7 linked regions of the Homo sapiens genome follow. The protein of the gene in region 7 purifies or fractionates together with the protein of the main gene of each other region. This does not show direct contact. Each region holds a gene or a part of one and is shown on either strand. Other genes may lie near its edges. The genes, in order: STAU2, RALY, MTHFD1, YTHDF2, ZNF318, ELAVL2 and NBEAL2.

Region 1 (3,500 bases), on a different chromosome or scaffold from region 7:
GTAGGAGCCAGATTATTAAGGGCTTCCTAGGTTATCCTAAGGAGTTTGGGTTCTATAGTGTAACTGATAAACTGGTGAAAGACCTTTAAGTAAGAGAATGTTCTAGCCTTGGCAAGATGGTAGAATAGGAAGCCCTGGAACACAGCAATTCAACAATAATTTATAGGCAATTTTTCTTTGTGAGAAATCCAGAAACCAGTTAAGAGGCTCCTGTATGCCGGGTGAGCATGAAACCAGCCAGATCTTAATTGGCAGGGAAATTTAAGATACCCTCATGCCATAATCCCTCCTCACAGTGCAGGGCCATACAATCAGGACAACCACCCTCCACCCCCAGCTCCCAGCTTCTTTCTGCCTAGAAGGGGAAAGATGTATACCACGCATCCAATGCCTTAGCTTTTCTGGGGCTACCCAGAGGACTGGCTTCTGTCTGGCCAGTCTCAGAGTGCTGACAGGACATGGCATATTTTAGCAACCCCGGGGCCAATGAAGAAAGAGGTGGCTGGTGGTGGTGGTCACTGTAACCATCCCCTGCTCAGCCCAGCACAAAGCTAACTGTTGAAAAGCTTCAGCTTTCAGCTTTTTCCTGGAGAGGCAAAGAGGAGCACCATGTATCCAATGACCCAACTTATCTGGGAGTTGCCTGAAGAATTGGCTTCAGTCTTGCTTGTCTCAGAGCTCTGATGGGACTGAGACAAGCAAGGGACTGATGCCTGGGGACTGCCAAGAACAAAGAAAGTGGATTAGACTAGCATAAAAGTTTGAGAGGCCTCCAGAATCTCTGTCCAGGCTGATTGGTTAGGATCTTCTCCAGTATGAGGCCAGTTTGTGCAGACACAAACACAGAGAATCAAGGAAAAATGAAGAAACAGGAAAACATTTCCTAAATAAAGGAATGAGATAAAGCTCCAGAAACTGACCCTAATGAAATGGAGATATGTGATTTACCTGACAGAGAATTCAAAGTAATCCTTACAAACATTCCCACTGAGGTCTGGTGAACAATGCATGAAAAAAAGTGAGAATTTCAACAAAAAGAAAACTTTAAAAAGTAGCAAGCAGAAAGCATGGAGCTAAAAAATACCATAAACTGAAAAAGTTACCAGAGGGATTCAATAGCAGACAATGTCAAGCAGAAGAAAAGGTCATCAATCTCAAAGACAGGTCATTGGAAATGACTGAGTCAGAGGAGAGTTGGGCTAGCCTCCAGCATTTCCCAAAGTGTTAGCTGTTTTATTCATGCTATGTTAAAGGCTTGGACAAAAAGTAAACTCAGGAATCCTGAGTTAAACCAAGTCGAATAGATTTTTGTTCTTTGAGTTTTCTGATTCTTCACTATGCTAATGTGTATTTTTAATTTCACAAAAGGCATTTGTATTATGTAATTTGCATTATTTTCAGTTTTTATTTATGGAACCATTTTATTTGGGGACCATGTTATAGAACACATTTTGGGAAATGGACACTGAGAATACTAGCAGCAGAGAAACATTGAAAGCTTGAATCAGAAGGTTAGCATCAGGAGAGGAAGGGGCAAGAACAGGAAATTAAGTTGTGTCTCTCAGAGCACATTCTTTATGAGTGGTGACTTACCAATAATTTTAAAAGATAATATCATTTGAGAGTTATTGATACCTGATCAAAAGATAAGAATAAGCAGTTTGAAATGTGGTTTGAAACTTCTCTGAGACAAATGATAGTCAAAGGAAAGTGCTTCTCTAATATGGTTTAAGCTCCATCAACTAATGACATAGCCCCCACTCCTCTTGATTTCAGAACCTGTCCATGGCCTGGCTTGAATTAATGCACTAGATAATCCCTACAATGGTCATATTCTTGAGATGTTTGAGCAACACGATAACTACTTGCTTATGAGTAAATCAGAGATGGTTGCCAGGAGTCTAGGTTGGGTCATGAGCAGCCACATGGTAGTATGAGCAAAGCAAGTTAGAGACAGTGCTAGTTTTGAGATGATACCCATTTGCTTTTTTATGTGTTCGTGAGTTAGAGTTGTCTGTGGGACATCCTTGTGGAGGTGAGAGGATCACTAGGCTGTTGAATACATGCGTTTGTACCTCCAAAGAAATTTGGACTGATTCAGCCTTTATTTTACCTGATGTGCCTCAATTGCTGTATGTGTTGGGGTTTCATGCCTCTTTTATGAGATATAAAATATTAAATTGCAGGGTGAAGACACTGCACATTCCTGATTTTCTGCCCCATTATACTTCCACACATTCAGTTTCCCTTGTCCCTTTATAGCTTCACTACTACACATAAGTCCCATTGAAACCACTTTTTTTGGATGTTTTTAAACCTCTAATTTTAGGAAAATTGAAATAGACATTATTCACCTTTCAATAGAAGCTGCAACTGCCTCTACAGTATGACAAAGATACTTGTTTGGCAGTGTTTCTCATTTCTTTGTTACTACACCAAGTAAAGCCATTGAGTTAATAATGCTATGTTTCTATTTCGGTTATTTTAAGTGTAATAACAGTGTTCTTCATTTTATTTATAGCTCCAAAAGGAATTCTTCATTTGTCTCCTGATGTTTATCAAGAGATGGAAGCCAGCCGCCACAAAGTAATCTCTGGCACTACTCTAGGCTATTTGTCACCCAAAGATATGAACCAACCTTCAAGCTCTTTCTTCAGTATATCTCCCACATCGAATAGTTCAGCTACAATTGCCAGGGAACTCCTTATGAATGGAACATCTTCTACAGCTGAAGCCATAGGTTTAAAAGGAAGTTCTCCTACTCCCCCTTGTTCTCCAGTACAACCTTCAAAACAACTGGAATATTTAGCAAGGATTCAAGGCTTTCAGGTATGAATTAAAAGCAAAAACAAAAAACAAAACAATTCATTAGCCTCAGATTCTTCATCTGTATACATCACAAGGCTCATTCTTGCCTGCTAGTATGGCCTACATGCCACTTACGTTTTAAGTTATTTAGGAACACAAAGGACAGACAAAAAAGCCATATGCACATGCCTCATTTTCTCTTATTTTTGATCTATCTAGTAATTCTTTTGCTGCCTGTCTCTTCTCCATTTTCCTTCTTCTTTTTTAAGCATTTTTCATATTCTTCACTGTCTTCTATTTGGTCTTGATTAGGTGCATCTATCTCTTCGCTCTGTCTTCCACAAACAAAAATTCTGCCTTCAGACATTTGGTGTTAGTATTTCACACTCAGTTCTCCCTTTTTTTACATAAGGATTGAGTTTCTTTTTATGATGATTTTACCTTTATAGCAATTTTGAATTTTGCATTCTATTGCTAGTATTGATTCAGGTACACCATTAAGATACAACATTCTAGAAGTCTATTACCTTAGGAGTTAATTAAACATGATATTTGAAGAATAATGAAATGCTTTATAGTTGTTTGAGGCATAACAATGTGTATTTGTTTTACTGGATCATGTTTTGAACTGACTAGGGAGGGTAGCACCTGCCTCAGATAGTACCAACAATTCTGTTTCACTGGGTAGTCTA
Region 2 (2,237 bases), on a different chromosome or scaffold from region 7:
AAATTTAGTAGCCTTAATAAACATTTATTAGCTCCTGAGTGAGTGGCTTGGCAGTTTGGGCTGTGTTCAGTGTGGTGGTTCTTATCTCATCTGGGCCCTCGTGTGGCTGAAGTGAGCTGGCAGATCAGCTGGGGACTGGCTGGTCTCAGATGGCCTCGCCCGCCTGTCAGGTGGTTGGCTGGGCAACTGGGCCACACGTTCCAGCATCTAGCAGGCTGACCCAGGATTCTAGACATCATGGCTGAGTTCCAAAAACCGCAAGAGAAGACAAGCCCAGTATGCGAGTGCTCTTGAGGATATTGCTATGACGTATCTTTTGGCCAAAGTAAGTCACATGGCTAAGCCCAAATTCTTCTTAACAGGAGGAGCTTCAAAATATGGCCATATTTAAAAAATCTACCTCAGGACTCATTTCACTTGCCAACTCAGAACTTTTAGTAGCAGCTGCCTGGAGTGCCTTTTGAGGATCTGCAGCAATTTTCAGACTGTTTGGAAATACTGACATGATAGTTTGGCAGTTTCTCTTATGAGCATGGAATTCAAGTGTGGGCACGTGAGCGTCAGGTATTTGCCATCCCTGGCCAGGTTGACCCGTAAGGTCATAACCTGCCCCATAGGATGTTATATGCAGTAGGCCTGTCTGACAAGACCACAGAAATAGAGAAGGCAAAGCAGAGCAAAAGATTCTGAGCCAGGCATCCTTGGTTTTCATCCCAACCAGATCATTGATTGATTGAGGTTTTAGGCAAATCAAAATCCCTCCACCAGTAGCCAGATTCTTCATAATAAACTTCCTCCATAACAGTAAACCATTTCCTGAACACCTGCTGTTAAAAAGCACATTTTACATTTACTTAATCTCCACAACCACCCTCAGTAGGTGTAGTAAGGACTTCTGGTTACAAGTTACAGAAACTGAATTCAGTCCTGCTTAGTGGGAGGAAGTTTATTGGCTCACAAATTGTAAAGTCCAGGGATCTTCAGACATGGGGACTTGGGTTCAAAAGCTGCCATCGAGAATCCGGTTAGCCAGGCATGGTGACACGTGCCTGTAGTCCCCGCTACTTGGGGGACTACAGTGGGAGATCATTTGCACCTAGGAGGTTAATGCTGCGGTGAGCCATGATCCTGCCGCTGCACTCCAGCCTGGGTGACAAAGCGAGACCCCAACTCAAGGGGAAAAAATCTGGTTTTCGGGCAGGTTCCAAGAAGTGGTAGAGCATGGCCATAGGGCCTGTGAGAATAGAGGGACAGAGGGGAGAATCCCCAAAAGGAGAGCAAGGCTTGGCTAACAAAAACAGGCATCCACTGTGTGGTTATGTCTATTCTATAGATTTTGTAGATGAGGTTTAAAAGCATGGCCCCAAGTAAAGGTGGCATCTCTATCCTATCCTCGCCTTTATCTAAACTCTGTGACCGATCAATAGCATATGATGGTGGTGGTGCTCTGCCAGTCTCCCAGTCCCAGACTGAAGCACTAGCAGCTTCCACTTATTATCTCTTGGGACTCTAGCTCTTGGGACCCAACCACCATGCTGTGAAGCAGCCCAGGCCACACAGAGAGGCCACGTGTACATGTTCAGCTGACAGCAGTATCAAATGTCAGACATGAGAGAGGAAGGCTTCAAGATGACTCCAGCCCAGCCACCGTCTGAGAACAAAGTAAGAACTGCCTCACTGATGCCATTCAAAGCCCAGCACCATGAGAGATAATAAAACGTTGTTTGAAGATGCTAACTTTTGGAGTGATTTGTTGTATCAGTAGATAACCAGGACACAGGCCCACAGAGGTTCAGTAGCTTGCTGTGCTTCTCAGGGGGCTAGGTTAAGAGTATAGGTTTTGTTGCTGGGCGCGGTGGCTCACGCCTGTAATCCCAACACTTTGGGAGGCCAAGGCGGGCAGATCACGAGGTCAGGAGACCGAGACCATCCTGGCTAACACGGCGAAACCCCGTCTCTACTAAAAATACAAAAAAATTAGCCGGGTGTGGTGGCGGGCGCTTGTAGTCCCAGCTACTTGGGAGGCTGAGGCAGGAGAATGGTGTGAAGCTGGGAGGTGGAGCTTGCAGTGAGCCAAGATCGCGCCACTGCACTCCAGCCTGGGCGACAGAGCAAGACTCCGTCTCTTGCTGACTCTTACCCATATGCCTGCATCTGTCTACCCTCTTTTCTATGTACTTGCTCCCTGGATGACTTCATCCGTGGCTTCAGACTCCACTCATGGCTCCATAATCTTC
Region 3 (3,500 bases), on a different chromosome or scaffold from region 7:
ATGTGGTCAGTGGAAAAAGTGACCACTACTCAGCCTAAGCATATGACCTCAGTAATGAGCAAACCTTTTGGTTATCTACCCCCAGCCCTAGAATTTCTCTTTCTTTGGGAAATCACATGTACAAAAATCAACTAAAGATCCAGCTGAGCCCTGACTCTTCTACATTTAATTTGGGGACCCTAATAATAGAGGCCAGTCCAGAAGCAGCTACACTGGATAGGTTGAGACTGGATTGCATTAGGGTGGGGAATCTGTTCCCACTTTTTAACCCTTCCAAATAAAACACTATTGATCTGGCCCTTCTCAATTTATCTTTAGTAAGCCAAGCAGGAAGAGCACTTTTATGTGTTTCTCTGGCCAATACTTTCTGCCCTGCACTTGAATCTTTAAAAATATTACTTCTTTGTAAAAGGTATACACACCTTGATTCATTCTTAATTTGGCAAGTGACTTACAATGTTATCCCTGAGTGGACCATGCAAACTATTTAAATAATCAAAATATGAACCAAGAAGTAGCTCGGTGGTAGAAAAGTTTGCTTCTAAAGTGAACATTTGCAAATATCAGTCTTTAGGTCCTGCAGCCCATTTGCTGGTCTGTAACTGAGTGATTCTGCCATCCTTTGGGGAACACAATAACATCCAGCTGTATCAGCATTAATTTGCCTATATGCCCAAGATCAGTAAAAACACTGTTGACCAGAAGGGAAGATACTGCTTTGATTTTATTCATATTTTATTGTCTACATAAGGAATCAATGTGAAAAGGATGGCAAGTTTCATGTTTAAGTCAACATTTCCTACCTATCTGCAACACTCAAGATCCCCACTCAGGTTTTTCTTCTCCATTTCTCACATGTAATCCAAAAAAAAAATGCCAAAAGCAGAAATATGATACAGAAGATGCGAGGTTTTAAAAAGACTGAGCTTGCTGGGTGCGGTGGCTCACGCCTGTAATCCCAGCACTTTGGGAGGCAAAGGTGGGCGGATCACGAGGTCAGGAGATCGAGACCATCCTGGCTAACATGGTGAAACCCCGTCTCTACTAAAAATACAAAAAAAATTAGCCGGGCGTGGTGGCGGGCGCCTGTAGTCCCAGCTACTCGGGAGGCGGAGGCGGGAGAATGGCATGAACCCGCAAGGCGGAGCTTGCAGTGAGCCGAGATCGCGCCACAGCACTCCAGCCTGGGCAACAGAGCGAGACTCCGTCTCAAGAAAAAAAAAAAAAATTAAAAAAATAAATAAATAAAAAGACTGAGCTTGAATGTCATATCGCAAGTATTCAAAGTGAGGAGTTGTAGGAGAGCAATTTCTTTATCGCCTGTTAGATAATTACACTACAAGAAAATGAGTGATCAATTATGAGCTACTGTCTTAAAAGCACGGTAGGGAGAGTGGGAGGGAGGTTAAAAACGGTGAAGGCTTGACAGTGACTAATGTTCCTGGCAGCTCAGCGTCTACATCTGAAACTTGAGATGGGAAGGGAGAAAAAAGACTTCCAGCTATAACTCCCTTCGACAATTCAATAGATATGAGTGCCAGTGGTCAGATGGCAGGAAGCTGGATGTGGCGCCACAGTGACCACTGCCCTTGAGGAGCTATCTAGGCAGGAGAGCACAGGACGCCGTACATGAGACACATGCAACAAAAGATACAATACACATGTTCTATGGGAGAGGAGGGAGGGAGAGAAGGAAAGATCATCCCTTGATAAGGGGAAATCAAACAAGGTTTGGAAGGAATAACAGACATGACAGAGAGGAGATGGGGAGGAAGCAGCTGAAGGTGAAGGTGAAGTTGAACCTTATTCAGTTGTGTAGCCCAAGGCCTGGCATTGTGCTGGATACACAGTAGTTGCTCCGTTAAAGATTGTTCCTTTCTTGGATCTATGAGGACGTACGCAAGTTTTGCCCTATTGTTCTGTGAAGTTTTCTGTTTGAAAGAGTAGCCCACTCCACTAAGAATGCAGGTGAGGGAACTACAAAGGGCAAACGAGGCATGCGCAGGGAAGGGAAAGTGGTCCACTTTACAAGTTGAAGACAGGTATTCACCATGCGCAAGTGAGATCACAGGCTGCAGAGGTCACTGAAATTAGTGTGAGGCTAAGGAGTCTGGCAAGTAAGAAGGAAGAGGCTCAGAGTTCCATGCCAGAAGGTGAACGTGGCAAGGCGAGAGCACGGGGATAGATCTGAGTGGGAAGCAGCTGGAGGGAGGGACACCTGCAAGGAAGTTATCACAGCCCATCAGCTGAGAAGGTAACACTCAGTGGTGACACTCAGAACAGAGGAGAGAGAAAACAATTCCTAATATTTAGAGACTGGTCCAATATAGGGAATGCTTGGGAGGGAAACTAAAAGGCTTCAGACTTGCGGGAAGGAAGAATGGTGATACTAACCAAAAGACGGGAGTAAGGGGTAACTTGGGGATGAGGATGCCGAGTACAGTTTTGGACATGATTAAAAGGCTAGATTTATCCTCTCAGCCTAGAAAAAAACCCAGGTCAAATATCTTCTTTGTAAAGCCCTCCTCTTGGCAGAATGAGTCCCTCTTCTGGACTCTCATAGCACTTTGCAATAATTATACTGTATTTTAAATCCATCCATCAACTTTGCTAAAATAAAGGGTGATCTCTACATGAAGATAAAGTGATATATCCCTCCTGCCCTCCCTCTCACTTTCTCCCTGGACAAAGTCATCTTGGAAGCTGTACAGCACATGATGAAAATCAAAGGCTCTGGCACCAGGCAGACCTGCCTGCAAGTGGCAACTCTTCTATCTACTAACTCTGTGCACCCTTGGGCTAGTCAGTCTCCTAAACCTTAGTACTACAAGCATAAAATGAGACAAGCTTCTCTCTCAGGCTTCTTTTGATGACCTAGATACCATCCTCAATACCAGCAGCCACCTTACTCCTCCAACAACACTCACCTGGGACATAATTGATTCCACAGTCGATGACTATTGCCCCAGGTTTGATCCACTCCCCTTTAACCATTTCAGGCTGACCAGTTGCAACCACCAGGATGTCACCTTTATTTACCTAGGGGTAGGGGATTTGGACATCAGAAATGAAATAATGAAATACACACCAAAAAAAAACCCAGAAATGAAAAGGATATCCCTGAGCTTTGTATTAAATTCTTAAGTGTCATAAGCTATTTCATAAGATATTGGGTTAAGGCCTCAAATGTAAGCCACACACTGTTTCTGACAGCCCTTCACATGCCGTGCTCATTTCTACACATGCCAAAGAGCTCCCTTTCACCAGCCATTTTACCCAATAGGGAAATCAGTGTCAACCTGCAAGGCAGAGGGGCAAACAGGCTTGGGGCCCTGCGTGTTATGTCCAGACACTGCTCCTTCTCCTACAGAATGTAGAGCACTACTTTGGGAGGATTAAAAGAGAAAGTACTAGGCCTCTCTCCTGCTCTCTCCCCACATTTAAGAGACTGCACTGTCAACAGGCACGTGTGTGTGTGTGCGCATTCTTGGGCTCAGGAA
Region 4 (3,500 bases), on a different chromosome or scaffold from region 7:
GAAGCTTCGGTCCATTAATAACTATAACCCCAAAGATTTTGACTGGAATCTGAAACATGGCCGGGTTTTCATCATTAAGAGCTACTCTGAGGACGATATTCACCGTTCCATTAAGTATAATATTTGGTGCAGCACAGAGCATGGTAACAAGAGACTGGATGCTGCTTATCGTTCCATGAACGGGAAAGGCCCCGTTTACTTACTTTTCAGTGTCAACGGCAGTGGACACTTCTGTGGCGTGGCAGAAATGAAATCTGCTGTGGACTACAACACATGTGCAGGTGTGTGGTCCCAGGACAAATGGAAGGGTCGTTTTGATGTCAGGTGGATTTTTGTGAAGGACGTTCCCAATAGCCAACTGCGACACATTCGCCTAGAGAACAACGAGAATAAACCAGTGACCAACTCTAGGGACACTCAGGAAGTGCCTCTGGAAAAGGCTAAGCAGGTGTTGAAAATTATAGCCAGCTACAAGCACACCACTTCCATTTTTGATGACTTCTCACACTATGAGAAACGCCAAGAGGAAGAAGAAAGTGTTAAAAAGGTAACCCACTTCTTCTTATTAAGATTTTTAGGGAAGGAGGAACCAGAGAGAACAGAAGAGGTATTATATAGTGAACCGTTAATAAAAACTCTGTAAATGAATACAGTATCACCTAACAGTTCAAGGCTTTATAGAAGTATAATTGGTTTTAATACTTGAACCCTAATGTGAAGGAATGTGAGAACATTAGTAGAGGACAGAAATACGGACTTTGAAAGGAAAGCAAAAACAGTACAAGGAAATCAGACAGAAACAGTACATGATGCAGAAAGAGGTGAAGAATGAGTCAAAGAGATGCAGAGGGGTAATGGAAGTGATAAAACCATAGAAATTAAAGCAGAAGATTGAGTCTATAATATGGCAGAGAAAAATCGAAATGTTCTCTGTTGGATTAACTTGGCCTAGCTGGGGTTTTGTGGTTATTTTCAAGAGTCAATATGTCATCACCAACTCTTGAAATCACTTCTGTCTTCCCTGTGACAATTGGCGGTGTAAAAGAGTCACTTCTGATTTCCTCTGTAACAAGTGGGAATCTTGGGCAGAATGATGAGGAATGGATTCAAACTAGAGTTGAATTTGAAAGAGTTGGTAGCGTTTGCTCTGTGAGTATTGAGTGAATGTAAACTTTAGGATTATAAGAGGATGATAAAACTGGTTGGAGCAGATAATGATATATTATCTGGGATTTATACTTACTTTTTTTTGGACAGGGTTCTCTGTTGCCCAGGCTGGAGTGCAGTGGCATGATGTCCGCCCACTCCAGCCTCCACCTTCTGGGCTCAAGTGATCCCCCCATCTCAGCTTCGTGACTAGCTGGGATCACAGTCATGCACCACCATGCCCGGCTAGTTTTTCATGTTTTTTGTAGAGCTGGGTTTTGCCATGTTGCCCAGGCTGGTCTTGAACTCCTGAGCTCAAGTGATCTGCCCCTGCCTCCCAAAGTGCTGGGATTACAGGTGTGAGCCACTGCAGCTGGCCTAGACATTGTTAAATGTAGGAAGTAGGTGAAAAGTTTATGAGCAAGGAGAAATTTTTCTTTGAAGATCTGTGTATTAGTGGTTGAGAGAATCCTGAGTTGATTAATCTCAAATATAAAATAAAGTCTAACAAGCAATGTTTTCCTTAAATTTGTTATGAATTCATAGGGATCTTATACGTGATCTAGGATCTGAGGCATTGTTAGGCTGCTCTATGAGAATTTACTCCTTTTAGCAGTGGAGGAAGGGCTCGTTGGTACAATCTTCTTGGAGGTACATAGTTGTTAAAGTAGGGATGGTTGCTATTTTATCTTTCAGTGGGTACAGATTAATAAGAAATGGGAGTTACACTTGTCAGTGACACTAAAAGCATTGGGAATGGAGAACCAGATTATTGAAAAGTTGGCTAATAAACTTCCTTTTTGATAGTCCTTTAAACTCCTCTCTTCCCCACAGTTTAATAGTTTAACTTAAAGTCTTCCATATTAAGCCTGGCGTCATGGCTCACGCCTATAATCCCAGCACTTTGGGAGGCTGAGGTGGGCAGATCACCTGAGGTCAGGACCAGCTTGACCAACATGGAGAAACCCCGTTTCTATTAAAAGTACAAAATTAGCCGGGTGTGGTGGCACATGCCTGTAATCTCAGCTACTTGGGAGGCTGAGGTAGGAGAATCACTTGAACCCCGAAGGCAGAGGTTGCGGTGAGCCGAGATCGTGCTCTAGCCTGGGCAACAAGAGCTAAACTCCCATCTCCCCCCGCCCCCCCCCCCCAAAAAAAAACTAACATATTTTGGCCTGGCGTGGTGGCTCACACCTGTAATCCCAACACTTTGGGAGGACGAGGCAGGAGGATTGCCTGGGCCTAGGAGTTTAAGACCAGCCTGGGCAATGTAGTGAGACCCCATCTCTCTAAAAAAGAAAAAATTAGCTGGGCATGGTGGCACACACCTGTTGTCCTAGCTACTTTGGAGGCTGAGGAAGGAGGATCCCTTGAGTCCAGGAGTTAGAGGTTGTAGTGAGCCATGATTGCATCACTGCACTCCAGCAGGGGCAACAGAGTGAGACTCTGTATCAAAAATAAATAAAATTTACAGTATTTTGTAGAAAAAGATAGTTTATTGGTGCTTTTTGCTAGACATCTGAAGGGCTCTAAATGGTCATCAGGCTTCTGTTTCTAGAGGGACAAGTAAGGAGGCCATGATCTTTTAGGCATCTTTTAGTAGCATAGCAGATTTATAGACGTCTGAGGGGCATCTAGGTGCTTGGTTTGTCCACTTGAAATGTGTACTATCTTATTAATCTTTATAATAAAATTCTGTCCTACATCTTGTGATTAAAAGCAGGAAGGAAATGATGAATTTAATGCACAGCATAGTTGTTAAGATAGACTTGTATGTGTTAGGGCCAGTGGGGAAATACAGGGTGATTTTCTTTTCAATTTTGCATTGCTGGGGCCAGATGAAGAAATATGGGTTTAGAAATGGAGTAGCAGGCTGGGCGCAGGTGGCTCATGCTTGTAATCCCAGCACATTGGTAGGCAGAGGCGGGCCGATCACTTGAGGTCAGCAGTTTGAAGCCAGCAGTTTGAGGCCAGCATGGTGAAATCCCGTCTCTACTAAAAATACTACAAAAAAAAAAAAAAAAATTAGCTGGGTGTGGTTGTGGGTACCTGTGATCCCAACTACTTGGGAGGCTGAGGCAGGATAATTTCTTGGACCCGGGAGGCAGGGGTTGCAGTGAGCTGAGATCCTGCCACTGCACTCCAGCCTGGGCGATAGAGAGAGACTCTGTCTAAACAAACAAGTAGCAAATTTAGGTTTTGTTAATTTAGCTTTTGGCCAGGCTCTGGCTCACGCCTGTAATCCCAGCACTTTGGGAGGCCGAGGTGGGCGGATCACCTGAGGTCAGGAGTTTGAGACCAGCCTGATCAACATGGAGAAACCCTGTCTCTACTAAAAAATACAAAATTAGCTG
Region 5 (3,500 bases), on a different chromosome or scaffold from region 7:
AAGCAACTACTAAAAAAACTAAGGAAAAGTCATTTCTAGAAACTCACAACAAAAGTAGCTACTAGAAACTGTAGAAGACACTAATAGTTACCATCCTCTAGATGATAATTCACTCTGGAATGTGAGTGACATGTAAGAACTTTTATTTTTTATTCAGAGTACTTAGAAGTTTTCATACATAAAGTGCTAGAGGATCTTTATTTCTATCTGTGATTTAAATCAGAAACTTTAGTTTTGTGTCATAGCCATAGCCCCTGAGAAGGTTAGCATTATTGGGTGTGGTATAGAATTCTCAGCTAAAAGAATAGCTGTCCCATCCTGGATTTTTACCTCATGCCACAAAGGTCTGAGACCTTTGTATTTAATGAAATAAAAATATATGGTGAACCAAACCATCACTTTCTCTTTTCTAAGCCCAAGATTAGCAGAGTGCTTGTAGATATCCAGAGAAGGCAAAGAGGGTGACAAAACAGGCTGTGAGAGAGCTTTATGGGTTTTAATATGTGAACCATCAAGGCAAAGCATTGGAGAACCTTCTAAATCTTATGAGAAAATCATGCTAATTAGATAAATCAGTAGTTTTTTTAAAAGTTACCATATAGTGATACTTTTTTTTCCCAATTGAATTATTAGAACCTTAATATACAGACTTAAAGTTGGAATTAGTGTGATTTAACTGGGATAGAAGGTCAAGAGCCCTGCTGGTTCTGCTTTTCTAGTACCTCCTTTCTTTTGGTAGCTCCTGAGCACTCTTTACAACCTCTGGAACACAGCTTTAAAACCATTTATCTGAGCCACGTGTGGAGGCTCACGCCTGTAATCCCAGCAGTTTGGGAGGCTGAGGCGGGCAGATCACCTGAGATCAGGAGTTCGAGACCAGCCTGGCCAACATGTGAAACCCCATCTCTACTAAAAAAATGCAAAAAGTCAGCCAGCATGGTGGTGCACACCTGTAATCCCAGCTACTTAAGGAGGTTGAGGCACAAGAATCACTTGAACCAGGGAGGTAGAGGTTGCAGTCAGCCGAGATCATGCCACTGCACTCCAGCCTGGGTGACAGAGCAAGACTCTGTCTTAAACAAAACAGGCTGGGCGCGGTGGCTCATGCCTGTAATCCCAGCACTTTGGGAGGCCAAGGCGGGCTGATCACTAGGTCAGGAGATCAAGACCATCCTGGCTAACATGGTGAAACCCTGTCTCTACTAAAAAATCAGAAAAAAAAAAAAAAAAAAATTAGCCGGGTGTGATGGCTGGTGCCTATAGGCCCAGTTACTCGGGAGACTGAGGCAGGAGAATGGCGTGAACCTGAGAGGCGGAGCTTGCAGTGAGCCGAGATTGCATCACTGCATTCCAGCCTGGGTGACAGAGCGAGACTCCATCTCAAAACAAAACAAAAAAATCCCATTGATCTGGACTGGTGTTTCTCAAACTTTAAAGTACAGACAAATCACCTGGAGATCTTGTTAAAATGCAGATTCTAGTTCAGATCTGCTTGGGGTGGAGCTTTGAGAAGCTATATTTCTAAAAAGTTCCCAGGTAATGCTAATGCTGTTTCGTCCGCACTACACTTTCAGTAGCAAAGAGCTAGAATTTAGCTTGTGTGGAGTTGTGTAACTTCCATGATATTCTGCATGCCCTAAGTCTAGTCGGAGAAATTACCCAAGAGATCTATCTAGATATGTTGGTAATATTACCTCTTGGTTAGAGGCTAAAGCTGCTTGTTCCCCTGGGGAAAGGGAGAGGAAATGTTCTTGGACTTCATGATTATAGTCTTTTGCCCTAAGCATTTTATAGCCCCCTTGACAAACACCAGTCTCTTAGCCTTGTCTGCTCTTATTCTTTCCAAGTCCATTTGTTCAATGATGCTTCTCTTTTTCCTCAGGGATGACCTGACTGATGATTCTGTCTTCACTCGAAGCTCCCAGTGCTCTCGGGGTCTTGAGCGATATATTTCCCAGGAGGAAGGGCCTCTCAGTCCCTTCTTGGGACAACTTGATGAGGACTACCGAACAAAAGAAACTTTCCTGCATCGATCTGATTATAGTCCCCATATCAGTTGTCATGATGAGCTGTTGCGGGGAACAGAACGGAATCGAGAAAAACTCAAAGGCTACTCCATACGATCTGAAGAAAGGAGCCGGGAGGCCAAAAGACCCCGTTATGATGACACAGTGAAGATAAACAGCATGGGAGGGGATCACCCAAGTTTTACATCAGGAACTCGCAACTATCGACAGCGTAGAAGAAGCCCAAGTCCTAGGTTTCTCGACCCTGAGTTTCGAGAACTGGATCTTGCCAGACGAAAGCGAGAGGAAGAGGAGGAGCGAAGTAGGAGCTTGAGTCAGGAGCTGGTTGGAGTTGATGGTGGTGGTACTGGCTGTTCCATCCCTGGATTGTCAGGTGTCCTAACAGCATCGGAGCCAGGATATTCTTTGCATCGGCCTGAGGAAGTATCTGTGATGCCCAAGAAATCCATTTTGAAGAAGCGGATTGAGGTGGACATAATGGAGCCCTCCATGCAGGTCTCTGCTGCATTTCTTGTAGGGCCTCTTGCTAGTCTCCCTAATATCTTAAAGCCTGCTTACTTTCCTGTGGGCTATGTTCCTAATGGTATCTTTGTAATATGTGCTGGACCGACATTGTGAGCTACACCTTCTAGGACTCTCCAAACGAAACTGTAGGCCTTTTAATGCATCAGTAGAGGGTTCTATTGCTGTATATTAGGCTTTATATTAATAAATAGATATTTTGGAGAGTACTGTAAGTTTTTTTACTTAAATTGGATTATCCTTTGGCAATCTTTGAGTATGGGTTTGTTGGAAATGAACCTTGAAGGGCAAGGGGAGGAGGTGATCTCAATTTTCTCATCTCTCTTTAGAGAGAAGACAAGATGTATGAGTTGTAGGACACTGGACTAGAAATCAGATGATTCTGATTTTGGACCCACTTCTGCCACCAACTTACTGTGATTTTTAGACAAGTCACCTCACCATTCTGAGCCTTGATATTTTTCCCTGACCTGTGAAAGGATGGTCAGACCACTAGTGGAAAGACCACTAGTTTTTAGCTGTCCTCTTAGGAGATAAAGGCTTCTGAAGAGGTTCCCAAGCAAAGGAATGCTGATGAGTTAGCGTTCCAGAGTTTCCTCTCCCCACTTCAGCCAAAGCAGCTTTTTTTTTCCTTTTCTTTTGGGGATCCATAGAAAAGAAAACAAGCTAGGGGATCTCTAAAATTCTTTTGAATTCAAATTCCTTTTAACAAATAGATAAAGGTGAGGATTCCATCCAGTTTGCCTCACTTCCTGTTTCTCCTCAACAGTAGAAACATCTGGAGATAAGGGGATTCACATTTTGAATCTGGCTAAGGATACTTTTCCTCCCTTTTATCCATACTTGTATCTCACCTGTTAATTCAGGAAGACCAAAGTATTTAAGTATTTATCTCAATTACTAATGTTCTGAGATTCTGCATAAGACTAAATCAGTTGTGTTTGTCTTTGC
Region 6 (3,500 bases), on a different chromosome or scaffold from region 7:
AGACTGAACAAGAATCAGTGCTGTCATGATAAAAAAACATGAGGCAAAATCCAGAATAGCTTTTGAAATATCCAACAACCTGTAACCCCTCTGTGACTTCATTTCCTTGTCAAAGAAGTGGGAATTTATTCTACAAGCTGCAAGCTGTTTCTCTACGTAAGCTAAGTTTTCTCAGGGAATACTTAAAGGGATGAAGGAAAATAAACCTTTGGAAATCTGTATTTAAAAATCTTAAATAATTCAAGATATGGGTTTTATTATAATTAGCAAATCTATTTGAATTTGAAAAGGGAAGTTTCAGATTTCCTAATTAAACATAACTGTTCTGGTTTGTAGAATATTAGCTGTGGGTCACTCTTTTCACAGCAAAAATTCTTCTGGGGTTAACCCTTGCCCAGCAGTTATGGAAACAATGAGCTACAAGATTAAAGTGGCCAAAGACACTTAAATCACTACTGAAAAGTTTGGATGGGTGTAGAAACTACAAGAGACCCGAATGGGAGATTCGGACTAAAGCTCATTGGGATAGCATTTGAAATACAAAGTGTTCATTGACTGAAATCAGCAAGATTTAGAAAGGACAACAAACACTCCTCACTTAATTGCACATTTATTTCCATGTTCAGGTGGCAAGAATGAGCTCCTAAGCCAACATTCAAGTGAACAGCTGCAGTAGGCTGTGTGCGCTGAAAATTACAGCATCTCTCTGCTATAGGACCATCTGCTCAGAATAAAATGATACTAATGTGCTATATTTTACAAATAATGCATATTCCATTGATAGGCTCAACACAACTGTTCACAGAATGCAAACTCTTTCAACAGTTACTGGGCAAATAATTTTCAGCCAGATTTACAATTTCAACTTTTTTTTTGGAGCATAAAGAATTGTAAATAACTTCAAAATTTAGTAACCAAAAAAATACATAGTAAACAGAATGTATAGAATTACGGTAACTTAGTATTCAGACCATACCAAAACTTTTTTTGTTTTTTTAAAAAAGCTTGTCACTCTTTTGAGTCTGCGCTAAATCCTAATTTAGATTGTAAAAAAATTACATACGAGAGCATGGTTCTGATGCTACATACACCACTACAGTTAAAATTGCAATGTGCTTTAAGTCCTAATGATGGCCATACCACAATAGGTTAAATGTAAGAATAATTAGTATGCCAAATGAAAGATTCAAGTGTTTGGTATGGCCTCAGCACTCCTCCAACATGCTAAAAAAAAGTAGCCTACAGAATTTAAGAAAAATCCCACAGACCCCGGTCCAAGGCTCTGCTGCCCACGAACCACTTCTAAGCAGAGAAGCCACATCACACAGTCTGACTGCCATGTTAGTTTGGAGTTGCCGTCTGCAATATGGACACAAAAAGTACCGTATGTTAGATGAGCAAGATAATGCAACAAATCAGTTTGTACAAAATTTACAGTGATTGTATTGATATTCCCAGCACGTCCATGCAGTGTGGCTTAATTGAAATTGAGGCAATTCCAATCTAATCTTTCCAAATTCATTTCAACATGTAGTTTTCTTGCACAAATATAAGCATTTTTAATTAAGAGCCTGATTTTAAAACAGTATTAACTAGTTATCTTGGCATCTATTCTGAAGAACTAATGTAAACCACACCTCAAAAATTTAAAAAATAAAGTAAAATAAAGCAAAATACTGCAGGCTGTCTTATCTCTTAAGGATGTGGGAGAAGGGAGGAAATGTGAATGAAATTTTATAGTGGGAAAAAGTCATCATGCAATTCCTAAGTGATTGGTTTGCATAAAAGCACTCTTTCCCCAAAATATCAGAAAGACATTAAGAGAAGCTATATTTGCCCACACTGTTACATTATACTATAAATGATCCTTAATCCTGGGACTTAAAATTAAAAGTGAATCGAAACCCTGTGAGGTTATTTTGCCACTACAGTCAAACGGTTTCTAACAGTTTCAATGAGAATTGCTCACATATACTAAGAGGCAGTAAACCAGCATCTTTCAATTGAAATAATTGGACCGATAAATAGGATTGTTTGGAGTAATGCTCGCATAGGATGTCAGCTTTGTCCCTGAACGAAATCAAGTGAACATTTTTTAATATGTAAATTGTAAACCCAGCACGATTTGAAATTAGTGCTGCTATGAGGCCTCCAATATAGTTAATGGGCCATTTACCACTTATTGAAACTTGCCCAAATACCAAACAGAGCCATGATATTGGCACAAAAGCCAAAGTTTACTTTTTTTGCCATATATGCAGATGCTTCAAATGGTCAATATAATCAGAAAACTTAGTTTCTAAAAATAGACAGTGAATAACAGAAGAGGTCCAAAAATGTCTTTTACTTATTGATAATTATAAAAATTTTATCCTGAGAGGCAATCCTGGCTGTGATTTACTCTTGATATTAGCAATGCCGCCAGTAACGATGGATTCCACTTTCTGGCATCTATCAAAAAGGATTAACATACTTTTTTACAGGAAGCCATGAAAATATTTTACTCTTCTTCCGTTCTCCCACTGTAACAAGAGATTTTGGTCTGACCCTATGTTATTTTTCAAAAAACTACTTATAGTTTAACTGAACCTGTGAAAAAGTGCTTTACACCCATGAAAGATTTTTCATAAGAACCCAACTGTAGTTAAGACTACATGAGCAGGACCACACCCAGCAGGGTAAAGCAGGCATAAATGTATGTCCTGAATACCTTCAGGAGTTCAATCTAAACATTGCTCACTACATAAAACAGATTTTAATTTAACTGCCTCAGTCCCTTCTATTTCATAGGAGGTGGACACTAATGAGCTAATCTATTGACACCCCTCTTTCTGAAAGCCCCAGGGAGGTGAACAATCACTTTATTGCACCAACTAGATAGGAAGGCTGTGTATGGAAAATGATTCTACTGCACTTTTACATTTCAAGCACCCCAGACAGTCTTCTCCGCTTGAGGCAGACACATACCTTTATGGGAAGTTATAAATAAGTTGCTCACATGGCCCTTACCTTTATGCTGGCCAACAATTCAGTTACTAAAAATGTAAAGCTACTTCCCCTTCACTTAAGGACAGGCAATTCTGCTCTACTCAATCTACCACAGACAACTGGGCTGTGTACTATTTATAGATTCCACTGGCTCTGAAACTCTTCGGAAAGAAAAAAAAGGCCATATTCCAGTGAAACAGAGCCATTAATTTTAAGGCTTAAAAAAATAATGTTTCAATATATATTCTCCTCTTAATTTAGACATCACTTGTGCCAATTCAGACTGCTTTTCCTCCTGTTATTATCCAAGTAATAATTTACGAAAAGGCACTTTAGCATAGATGAATCTAGAATATTCTAAACTTTCACTGGGCTCCAAGGTAAAATGGCTGTTACTATGGTGAAAGCGTAGGTTTTATTGGGAAATAGAAGATTGTCTCTACTTTTATACACACAGGTACTTCCAAAAAGCCATAAAGACTTCTAAACTTTTTATTTAAATAATCCTTTAT
Region 7 (3,500 bases):
GCCATACACAGGAACCACTTGGTGGTGGCTGCATGCAGGACTGGGAGAACCAAAGACCAAGCAAGAGTTTAGGGACAGAGACAAGAGAAGACATCTTGGGCTGGAGCGAGGGCCTCCCATCAGGTGGAGGGGTGGGGTCAACCTGCCTACCCAGATTTCTCATCCTCTTTCCCCGCCATCTCCTGGATCCTTCTAGCCACTTGTACCCTACTGTGATCTTAAAACTCTCTGGTCCAATCCCTTTGTCCCCATAGCCTCCACGCATCTCCACCCATCCCGGAGACACAGGAGGTATCTCCACCTCCTGTTCCCTGGCTGCTGGAGGATCTGGTGCCCAGGACAGCTGTGGCTGCCTGTTCACAGGTGGTCCTGTGAACCTGTTCTCCCTGGTGACCCTCCACCCCTGGGTCCCCTCTCTCCTCTCATTGGAGGGAGACTGGCCAGGACTTTAGATAGGCTCAGGGTGGGATATGGCCTGGACAGAGGTGGGCAGGGCTGTGAAAAGGTGGTGACCTATTGGGATATTAAATGTCTCAGTGATGCCCCCATGGAGCTGTGGGCCTGGATCTAGAGTTGGGGCAGCAACTCCAGGAGGGGAGGCACCCCTAGGGAGCTCCTCGACTTTATTTTCCCATAGCCTGGGTGCTGTTATTAAAACAAACTGGATTTCATTTCTCCTCCCATCATATCCCTTGATGTCAACCTGACGTCCTCAAGATGAAATCCTACTCCTCCCACAGCCTTTCTCTCCACTTGCCCTGCTGCTCAGCCTGGCTTCTGTCCTCTCATTCCCAGACTGCTACCACTGACCCCACCTCAGGGTCTTAGCCCATGCTGTGCCTTCTCCCCTCCAACTGCATTCTCAGGTCTCCCCTCAAAAGCCCCATCCCCAAGGAGGCCTCCCACCCATCCAGCCGGAATCAAGCCCCAGCCCTACTCTTCCTCCTCTGCCAGGCATGTGACCCGGGGCTAGTCCCTTCTGCCCTCTGAGTTTCAGTCCCTGGCCTGGCATCCTGTCCAGTTTTGCTGGCGCAGGGCCAGGTGGGCCTCCTACGTATTAGGTTGTGAAAGCCCCTAGAAGTCCCAGGCAAAGGCATGGGCGTGGGGGGAGGTGGCATCAGTATAGTAGATACAGCAGAGTCCCCAGAGCACGGCATGGGAAGCACCAACCGTCACAGGGCAGAGGCAGCAAGAGATTTGCATCTGAGAAACTAAGCCCTGGTCATCATGGGGAAGTGGAAGGGTATGTGCTCATGCTGGGGCCCTCACTTTGGGGCTTAAGGATCTGGGAAGCTGGCTAGACTCTCAGGGCTGGTCTTTGTCACCCTTAAGTCCCCCAAAGAAGGGTTGTCCCTTTCAGGCCCTCTACTATACAGCCATAACTCCTTAGATGCCCCCCAGGGCAGAGCCAGCTCTTATCCCTCACACTGGATCTTTTACTTGGCCCAGCTCCCTCTCCCCTCCACCCCAGGGCACTCACCTCTTGTGCAGCCCCCTGGGTCCATAGCCCTGCAACCTTGGTGACATTACCCTGCCCACACCCCCCTACCCAGAGAGCCTACAGAATGCAGACCACTTGCCTCCCATACTGCTGTTACGTCTCATCCACCTCTTCTGCGCCGTCCTCGCTGGAGGAAAGGTAGGCTGGGAGGTGAGCCTGTGGACTAGAGAGCAGCTCTTTCAGTATCTCTCTGCTGGGTGAGCCCCTTGCCCACTGCCCATCTCTGTCCACACCTGCAGGAGAACGGGCAGATGGCTGTAAGTGATGGCTCTGTGAAGGGCCTGCTGAGTGTGGTGCGGGGCTGGAGCCGTGGGCCAGCCCCGGACCCGTGCCTAGTGCCACTGGCTCTAGAGGCACTGGTAGGTGCAGTCCATGTCTTGCATGCCAGCCGCGCACCTCCTCGTGGCCCAGAGCTTCGTGCCCTGCTTGAGAGCTACTTCCATGTCCTTAATGCTGACTGGCCAGCTGGTCTGAGCTCAGGCCCCGAAGAGGCCCTTGTCACCCTCCGGGTCAGCATGCTCGGTGGGTATGGGCTCCCAGGCTCTTGGGGAAGGGGCACCATGAGGGAAAAGCCTAAGTGATGATGGAAGGTCTGGATAGGGCAGCATAGGAAGGAAGGCTTAAGGCTGCCTAGAGGGGTCTGGGCAGGGCCTGACCCTTGACCCTTCCACAGACGCCATCCCCATGATGCTGGCATGTGAAGACCGGCCAGTGCTGCAAGCCACCTTCCTCAGCAACAATTGCTTTGAACACCTCACTCGGCTCATTCAGAACAGCAAGGTGGGTAGGGCCCAGCCTGGGGGTGAGGGTCTGGAAGCCAGAGGCTAGGGGAGCCACGCATAGGTGCCAGGCTGCTGCTGAGCAAACATGGGCTGGACAGAGTCAGTGTTTTGCAGCTGGTGGGATGGCTTGCAGTTCAGTGGGAGGGTGTGGGGCATGGACAAGGGCCCATCCCTTGGGGCCTCTATAGGACTGGGCTTGAGGCTTAGGACATCTTTGTGCCCCATGGAAGCGGGGCTTGTTATGGAAGGAAGGGAGCTGCTCTGGTGCCTTGTTTCCCTTTCCGTGGCCCCAAGTACAGGGGCTAGAGGAGGGCACCACTGCTTTCAGATGCAGTGCCTGCTCCCACCCGCTCATCCCCCCGACTGCCCATCTGAGCAGGGCACAGGGGGCTCAGCACCCTACTCTTCCCTAGTGCCGGGCAGGGCACCTGGCAGCTGCCCCTGGTCCTGCTCTAACCCCACCCTCTCCCATCTTCCTCCTCTCTTCTTTGCCTCCTCCACCCTGTGCCTCCCCACTTCCCCACAGCTGTACCTGCAGTCCCGGGCGCCCCCCGAGGGGGACAGTGACCTGGCTACCCGGTTACTGACTGAGCCCGATGTCCAAAAGGTACCATCCTGGGGCTGACCAGCTCAGACACCCCCTGGGACTCCCTCTTTGAGCTTTTCCTGCACTATAGCTGGGGAAATGAGCAGATGTGTGTAAGGCCTGGTGTGGTCTAGAAATGGGTGTGGGTCCTCCATGCTGTCTCGCCTGCCTTCCAAGTCCCCATCCTAGGGAACAGGACAGAAGGTGGTCTATCCCCTGCCTGGTGTTTGATTGGGTGTTGGGGGTCTGGCTGTGCCAAGCTGGATGGAACCTTCGAAACTCAGCCACCTACCTCATTTCTCAGAAGGGGAGACAGAAGCCCAGACACTCAAGGATTTGGCTATAGTCACAGAGAAAGGGGTCTCCCTCATGGTGCCATTTCTTTCTGTAGATTCTTGCACCCACCCTCAGCGGGTCACTGGGTGTCCCCCAGCCCCTGATGATGTGATCCCTGATTCACCTTGCATGTGGGCTGTAGGAGGCTGCAGGGTGTCAGCTGGCAGCTTCACAGCGGGCACCCTTTCTGGGGGCTCAACCTGTGGGCCCCAACCTCCATAGCCCCTACCCTGGCTCTGTCTTCATGAGGTAACCCTATGTGTTCACCGCATGTGGTCATTTTCTTAGAGCTTAC

Evidence for each region.
Region 1: the proteins of NBEAL2 (region 7) and STAU2 purify together in Homo sapiens (tandem affinity purification; one large-scale study listed by IntAct). This does not show direct contact.
Region 2: the proteins of NBEAL2 (region 7) and RALY purify together in Homo sapiens (tandem affinity purification; one large-scale study listed by IntAct). This does not show direct contact.
Region 3: the proteins of NBEAL2 (region 7) and MTHFD1 purify together in Homo sapiens (tandem affinity purification; one large-scale study listed by IntAct). This does not show direct contact.
Region 4: the proteins of NBEAL2 (region 7) and YTHDF2 purify together in Homo sapiens (tandem affinity purification; one large-scale study listed by IntAct). This does not show direct contact.
Region 5: the proteins of NBEAL2 (region 7) and ZNF318 purify together in Homo sapiens (tandem affinity purification; one large-scale study listed by IntAct). This does not show direct contact.
Region 6: the proteins of NBEAL2 (region 7) and ELAVL2 purify together in Homo sapiens (tandem affinity purification; one large-scale study listed by IntAct). This does not show direct contact.

The regions. Positions count from the first base shown.
Region 1 is NC_000008.11:73,551,341-73,554,840, reverse strand, and holds part of STAU2 (double-stranded RNA-binding protein Staufen homolog 2), read left to right. Parts: intron 1-2,521; coding exon 2,522-2,829; coding exon of another isoform or gene 2,830-2,835; exon of another isoform or gene 2,836-3,500. UniProt on the Homo sapiens protein: RNA-binding protein required for the microtubule-dependent transport of neuronal RNA from the cell body to the dendrite.
Region 2 is NC_000020.11:34,083,148-34,085,384, forward strand, and holds the end of RALY (RNA-binding protein Raly), read left to right. Parts: 3' UTR 1-1,737; downstream 1,738-2,237. UniProt on the Homo sapiens protein: RNA-binding protein that acts as a transcriptional cofactor for cholesterol biosynthetic genes in the liver. Binds the lipid-responsive non-coding RNA LeXis and is required for LeXis-mediated effect on cholesterogenesis.
Region 3 is NC_000014.9:64,419,353-64,422,852, reverse strand, and holds part of MTHFD1 (C-1-tetrahydrofolate synthase, cytoplasmic), read right to left. Parts: intron 3,040-3,500; coding exon 2,928-3,039; intron 1-2,927. UniProt on the Homo sapiens protein: Trifunctional enzyme that catalyzes the interconversion of three forms of one-carbon-substituted tetrahydrofolate: (6R)-5,10-methylene-5,6,7,8-tetrahydrofolate, 5,10-methenyltetrahydrofolate and (6S)-10-formyltetrahydrofolate.
Region 4 is NC_000001.11:28,743,440-28,746,939, forward strand, and holds part of YTHDF2 (YTH domain-containing family protein 2), read left to right. Parts: coding exon 1-547; intron 548-3,500. UniProt on the Homo sapiens protein: Specifically recognizes and binds N6-methyladenosine (m6A)-containing RNAs, and regulates their stability. M6A is a modification present at internal sites of mRNAs and some non-coding RNAs and plays a role in mRNA stability and processing.
Region 5 is NC_000006.12:43,356,148-43,359,647, reverse strand, and holds part of ZNF318 (zinc finger protein 318), read left to right. Parts: intron 1-1,882; coding exon 1,883-2,522; intron 2,523-3,500.
Region 6 is NC_000009.12:23,763,741-23,767,240, forward strand, and holds part of ELAVL2 (ELAV-like protein 2), read right to left. Parts: intron 1,360-3,500; coding exon of another isoform or gene 1,269-1,359; intron 1-1,268.
Region 7 is NC_000003.12:46,989,666-46,993,165, forward strand, and holds part of NBEAL2 (neurobeachin-like protein 2), read left to right. Parts: intron 1-3; exon of another isoform or gene 4-1,227; coding exon of another isoform or gene 1,228-1,243; intron 1,244-1,553; coding exon 1,554-1,639; intron 1,640-1,740; coding exon 1,741-2,023; intron 2,024-2,174; coding exon 2,175-2,281; intron 2,282-2,809; coding exon 2,810-2,890; intron 2,891-3,500. UniProt on the Homo sapiens protein: Probably involved in thrombopoiesis. Plays a role in the development or secretion of alpha-granules, that contain several growth factors important for platelet biogenesis.